Homo sapiens: one gene and its partner. The protein of the gene in region 1 interacts with the protein of each later gene in a biochemical or structural test. Each region holds a gene or a part of one and is shown on either strand. Other genes may lie near its edges.

Region 1 (3,661 bases):
AAAAAATTAGCCGGGTGTTGTAGCGCGCGCCTGTAATCCCTGCTACTCAGAAGGCTGAGGCAGGAGAATAGCTTGAACCTGGGAGACAGAGGCTGCAGTGAGCCGAGACCGCACCACTGCACTCCAGCCTGGAACAGATCGAGACTCCGTCTCAAAAAGATAGCAACTAAGATAATAAGTGTATTTCACTGTAACTTTTTACTTACTTTAGCAGGTTTTTCACCTTTCACTTCCACATTTTCCAATATCCTTGCCACTCCTATTCCTTTAATTACTTGGCCAAACACCACATGTTTCCCATCCAAATGAGGAGTTGGAACTGTTGTGATAAAAAACTGAGAACCGTTTGTGTTGCGGCCTGCATTTGCCATGCTCAGTAAACCCTCCCGATCATGCTGTAGAAATAAAAATTAAAAGAAAACCAAGGTTAGATGTGTTCTTTTCTGAATTGTGTGTTAGTCTGAACTGTTCTTTTACTGAACATAAAACTGGGGTGCACTATACTACCATTTAGATCAAACTACTTTTTTTTACTTTTCACTTATAAAATTTTTTAATTACTTTTTATTTTTTTATAAACTGCAACCTTTAATTCACAAAACATGGGGCACTTAATCACTTTAAACTTTAAAAAACCTTATCAAAGTAAATAGGTAACAGAAACAATAGTCGGGGGGAGGGTTATTTCTAAATTGGCCATGAGAAAATACTTACACTTCACCTTTAAAATGAAGATGCAGCATTATGAAACTCTTGTAATATATTTTGCCCTCTTTATGATGAATGCTCTTTTTTTCTGGGAAGACCTGAACGGTCTTCCAAATTCATAAATATGCCTACAGTATAAGTCTTCCTTTACAAAACATCAATAAACTGGAACAATAATGGGATACTGAATTTACCCAAGACATTCAGTTTGGTACTTTCCTAATCTCAAAAGAATCCAAATCATACAGGATTTGGATTAGGTTTTCATCCCAGATGAATCACCTCTTCGGAGAGTGCTCAAAAGAAACTGCTGCATACATCTTGAAATCAAAATTCTACCTTGGCATAATCCTGTCAAAGGATCTATGAAACCCAATTTCTTAACCTTTTCACTTTATCTCCTAGGCTTTCTAAATGTATTCCTTGTTGGTGCATGCACCGTAACTCTCATGTTATATAATGTTTCATGACACCCCCCACCCCACCAAAATGCCTTTTACTCCCCTCAGTCTAAATCAAATTCAGATTTTAAGGCCACCACGTTTATAGAAAGCAAGAATCATGTGTCTTGTCTATAGGCCCCTTTTCTCTATGTCAATGTGATCATCACATCACCTTTAGTTTTCATCCTTCTGGTAGCTTCCTTTGGTACAACAGTAACTAGAACTTTATTTCCTCAACGTCTCTTGCCTTTGTCTTTCCTCACCGACGTCCCTTTTTAAATTCTGCATCAATACTACAGTTCCTGCCTAACCAAATCTCAGACATGTTGCCGCCTTGCAAGACCCAGTCTGCACAGCCCAAGTAGCCATTCCTCCTCAATGACTTCCATAATAATTCAGACTGCATAAATCACATCTTTCTCCTGCAGTATATAGACAGTATTAGCAATGTTATACAAGCAAGGATATTCAATCAATTTAGCATTTATTTATATACTATTATTCTCCAGTAGTCCCATGTATCTTAATCTTGTCTCTGAGGTAGGATTATAAATTCCTTGTCATCAAGGCCTTTCATTTTTATAAACCCTTTGGTGCCAGTGATAGTGGCTCAATAAACACTGACTGGAAGACTGACGACATTTTTTCAAATTATCCTAATACCCTTGCTCATATTCCTTATTTCCAAAAATATCACTTTACTTTTGTACTTACATGTCCATTCTTATAACTTGAATGATGCAATATACCCCAATTACATCTTGGGACAACGAAGACAAGAAGGCACAGGCACCACTGAAGTCCTTTAGGAGCTTGGACATTTAACTATATCTGCTAGTGTGCAAATCCCCTGACATCCTGGATATTAGTGATGGTTTTGTTGCTCTTCAAATTCAAGGATAAGGATGCACAAGTTACCATCCTTCCAACAATGGAAACATTTTTCCTGGAAACAATTTTGCCAGATGCTGGTCGCATTTAAAAACTCACTGGCTTAACTGAAGCATATAAAAACTGGATCACAATGAAATAATGCTGAATTAATCATTACTGAATGAAAACTTTTCCATATTAAAGAACCATTATTTACAAAAGTGATTCCTATTACAAGAAATGGAGAATCTAAGCACACTTGAAACATTTTTTGGTGTCTTAATCCAACAAGTATTCCAGATATATAACAATCTTTTTATCAGCAATAACATGCATTTTCTCTACTTTACCTTGTAATGGAAATTTTCATCTTCAAATTTTTCACCATAAATACTTTCTCCACCTGTCCCATTCTGATTTGAGAAGTCTCCACCCTGAATCATAAATTTCTTAATAACTACAAAAAAGGAAAATGGCTATTAGTGACTGAGACATGGATGCCTTTAGCAATGCTTACTAATGGATACGTACGTAAGACAACTTTGTAGTGCATGACTCTAGTCATGTCTCTCTCCTGTTTGTCGCTCCCCACCCGTCTCCGCAACTCCAAACGCTTCAGGCTTTTCACCATCTGAATCCAACCTATTTTCACTGCCTGATCCCTGCTAACATTCAGAAAATCGGTTCAAATGATACCTCCCCTATAAAACTGTCACTGAAATCCCTAAGCTGTATGTCCTAATTTTTCTCCCATAGTATCTTGACTCTGCCTACATAACATATGGCATTATGATCTGCCCCTTCCAGCAATGATCTCCTTAAGTACACCAACTGTATTGTTTTACATCCTTATAACTATGTGCATGTACACATAGTACATATTAGTTACTCAATAATGTCTGCTGAATACAGACCAATGATTCCCAGTAGATTTGTTCTACCCTAATGGAAAATTTTCAGCAAATATATCACTTTGTGTCAAAGGTTACCAAGATTGCTTTCATGTTCAGAGAACCCTAGAGCTCACACAAATCAGTATGTGGTTGGATCACAGTGGTAAGGATACACAGCGAGATGACGGGAAAGACACAGGCAGAGTCTGGAAAAATCCATGTGCAGGCTTCCTTATGCTTTCTCCGTCCCATGAAGTGCTACAGAACACACACTTCCCCCAGCAACAAAAATGCAGCAACATGTACACAGTATTTCTGCCCAGGAGAGCCAATTAGAGACTCAGCACCCAAGGTATTTATTGGGCACACTCTACCTAGCATGTACCAAAATTCCAGACTCCCCAAAAGAGAGCACACATTCATGTTTGTACAAATAGGCTAGGCATAGTAAATCACCATTACTATTTAGGAAATGGTACAAGTGTCAAGTTCCCAGACTCCAAACAAGTGCTACTCTTGCAGGCAGACCTTTCTAAAGATAGCAGTCTCACACTTGCTATGTTAAATATTTTCTGCATATAGTTTATTAGCATATTTCAAGTTTTTATTAAACATGAAAGTAAACATTTTAAATATTTTTTAAAAAGTTAATTTTTTCTTAATAAATCGTTTAAAAAATGTTGCTCTTGTGATTATTGCTTATTTGCCTATTTATTAAACAAATACTTACTGAGTTCTTACTCA
Region 2 (3,013 bases), on another chromosome or scaffold:
TTGGTTAAAAGGTGAATTGGGAGCATCTTAGGGACAAAGCGGGAAGGGGCAGGGGACCTACCTAAGGTAACTTTTGCCCGTTTGCTCCAGCAACGTGTCGGCGCATGGTGTTAGTTATACAGTGGTAAAAACATGGGCTGTAGGGCCTGACACCAGCTGTCCAGACAGGTGACTCTGAGCACATCTCTAGGGCCCCTCAATCTCTTTCCTCATTTGTAAAGTGGGGTGATGTCTCTCCCACCCGTGTGACAAGGCTGTCATGCAGCTTCAGATGTACATGAAATGGCCTTGAAAGCTACAGAGCAGCCTACAACTAGGTGTGTTCATGTTAGGATCAAGGGCAAGAGGCCTCCCTGGAGGGCTATGGATCAAACACAGATCCGATGATCTAGTAGGGACCAGGAACTCTGAACAAACCCTTAAAGACACGGGATTTTGGCAGGCAGGACCAGATAGACTTTGCTGAGTGACCATGTGTTAGGTGCTGTGTCTAACCAATTAATTCCTAAACATAATCTACTCAAACCAAATTCTCTAGGCCAAAAGGGCTTTTTGGCCTTTATACTCAGGGGATACCAAAAAAGGACATAAAAATAAAGCCTTCTACATTCCAGTTTAAAAGACAGTGAACATAATATGATCTGTTCTGGAAGCTTTTTATTGTTGCTCCAAGTTTAAGAATTTTCACTGATGGCAGAAAACCAACACTTTTAGACAATCTCCCGCATAGCCCTGCCCAGCTTCTGAATCTTGGTCTTGACAGACATGTCAACATATTTCTCGCCAATGCGCACAATCATTCCACCCAAGATTGACGGATCAGTCTACAAAAGAAGTAAGACTGGAAATGTGAAAACGCGCTAATCAAATGGGACACACAAAAAAGTGTTTTGAAAGGCTAAATGTGTTGCACAAATGTAAGAGGTTATAATTACACCTAGAAAAAGGCAAAAGTAAAACTGCACAGTCAGATAATCATTTAAATTTAAAATAAATACAAAATTTTAACTACAGAAAAATTAGTATAGAGTTAGATCTAATATTTCACTAGTACTTTCTGTAGCCATTTTAAGCTTAAAATAACCCGAGAAAACGTACCATAAATAATTTAAAACCTACCTTAGCCTCCAATTTCAATACTTGGCCTTGACTTAGGAAGCTCTTGAGGACAGTTTTTAATTCAGAGAGTGTGGCTTCTTCTAAAGGCTGAAAGGCAAAACCATCCTTTCAATTTAGATAAAGCAAAACAGAAACTTCCAGAGTTAAAATACCCCAGGCCCACATCACCAAGACAGGCCTTGTGAGCTCCTCCCTTTGCTACCTGGGCCCATCATGGAGCTGCTCTGCAGCATTCACTCCTTGTTCACGCTGGAGGTTCAGGGAGCACAGGAAGGCCCTGCCTCACAGCATCACCCGGGCAGCTCCCACTCAGCCGTTCAAGGACGGCCTGTAAATGCCACTCCCTCCCTGCCTCTGCTCTGTGTGCTAGCAGTACAACTTGGAACTAACAAGGAAAGGCCTTCAAGTTTCTAATGCCTGAAGATGCAGCCCCATCAATGCAGGAGGACACAGGCCTCTCCTGGGTGCAGCCCTGGGGACACGACATGCATCTATCATGTCCTTGGCTGAAAAGTTGCCATTTTAACCTGGTTTTACATCTTCATGTTTGCCTAGCTCTGCTGGCTGTTCATCTCCCCGCATCCACAGCTACCTGGAGCTCTGGCAGGCCACTCCACTCTCTGAACCCCAGTGAGAGAACCTGGAGCAGTTGGCTTTTCCTGAAGTCAGCTCAGCTCCATAACCTACTTTAGAGCAAGCACCTCAAATGTCCAGACTGCACTCTCCTCTCGGCCCCAACTCTTACTCCTGGTTAGTTATGTTATAGTGTTAAGTGTTCTAATGGTGAAAATGAAGAAGGCTGTTAAACCAAAGGCCTTTTTTTTGAGACCGAGTCTCGCTCTGTCACCCAGGCTGGAGTAGAGTGGCGAGATCTCGGCTTACTGTAGCCTCCGCCTCCCAGGTTCAAGTGATTCTCCTGCCTCAGCTTCCCAAGTAGCTGGAATTACAGGCGCATGCCATCACACCCGGCTAATTTTTGTATTTTTAGTAGAGACGGGGTTTCACCATGCTGGTCAGACTGGTCTCGAACTCCTGGCCTTGAGTGATCCACCCGCTGCAGTCTCCCAAAATGCTGGGGTTACAAGTGTGAGCCACCACACCCTGCTAAAAAGGCCTTTTTTTAACTTGTCATAAATCCTACCTCCCTGGCCCCTCCTCTAAGAGCCTAAAAAAATTTGGCAGAAAAATTTATGTCTTTGTAAAGATATAACAATATCCTTTTTTTGGGGGTGGGGGGTGCTGGTGGTGGCCAGAATCTATTCGTGTTCAAAACATGATTTACTGAGACTAAAAGGTTACAGAATTCTGAAATATACATACCCTCCACTGAGACATGTACCAACTGCCAGGTACCTGTCTATGCCAGGCACATTTCATGCCTACTATCTCCCTTCATGTGGGCAACCCTGAAAGGCCACCGGTCATTATGCCCATTTTACATATGAGGGAACGGAGGCTCAGGGTGGGTAAGAAACTCACCTAAGGCCACATCAGCAGGTGAGGACCAGCCCCAATATTTGAAACCAGTCTGTGTATTTCTAAAGCCTGTGCTCTTAGTCACTCATCAAGACATAACGTTTTTCAAACAGTACAGACTCACGCACCCAACAGTATCAACATCAAAAGCATTAGTAACAGTTGGTTCTAAAATCTTTTGCAAAAACAAGCATCCTTTAAAAGAAAATCATGGCCTTGTGGCTGTGCACGGTGGCTCACACCTGTGGTCCCAGCACATTGGGAGGCCAAGGTGGGTGGATTGGCTGAAGTCAGGAGTTCGAGACCAGCCTGGCCAACATGGTGAAACTCCATCTCTACTAAAAATACACTAAATTAGCCGGGTGTGGTGGCAGGTGCTGTAGTCCAGCTACTTGGGAGGCTGAGGCAGGAGAATTGC

What was found.
Region 2: the proteins of PPID (region 1) and ATP5PO form a complex in vitro, tested with the Homo sapiens proteins (one study listed by IntAct).

Annotation. Positions count from the first base shown.
Region 1 is NC_000004.12:158,716,806-158,720,466, forward strand, and holds part of PPID (peptidyl-prolyl cis-trans isomerase D), read right to left. Parts: intron 2,482-3,661; coding exon 2,375-2,481; intron 396-2,374; coding exon 207-395; intron 1-206. UniProt on the Homo sapiens protein: PPIase that catalyzes the cis-trans isomerization of proline imidic peptide bonds in oligopeptides and may therefore assist protein folding. Proposed to act as a co-chaperone in HSP90 complexes such as in unligated steroid receptors heterocomplexes.
Region 2 is NC_000021.9:33,902,816-33,905,828, forward strand, and holds the end of ATP5PO (ATP synthase peripheral stalk subunit OSCP, mitochondrial precursor), read right to left. Parts: intron 1,207-3,013; coding exon 1,120-1,206; intron 825-1,119; coding exon 711-824; 3' UTR 638-710; downstream 1-637. UniProt on the Homo sapiens protein: Subunit OSCP, of the mitochondrial membrane ATP synthase complex (F(1)F(0) ATP synthase or Complex V) that produces ATP from ADP in the presence of a proton gradient across the membrane which is generated by electron transport complexes of the respiratory chain.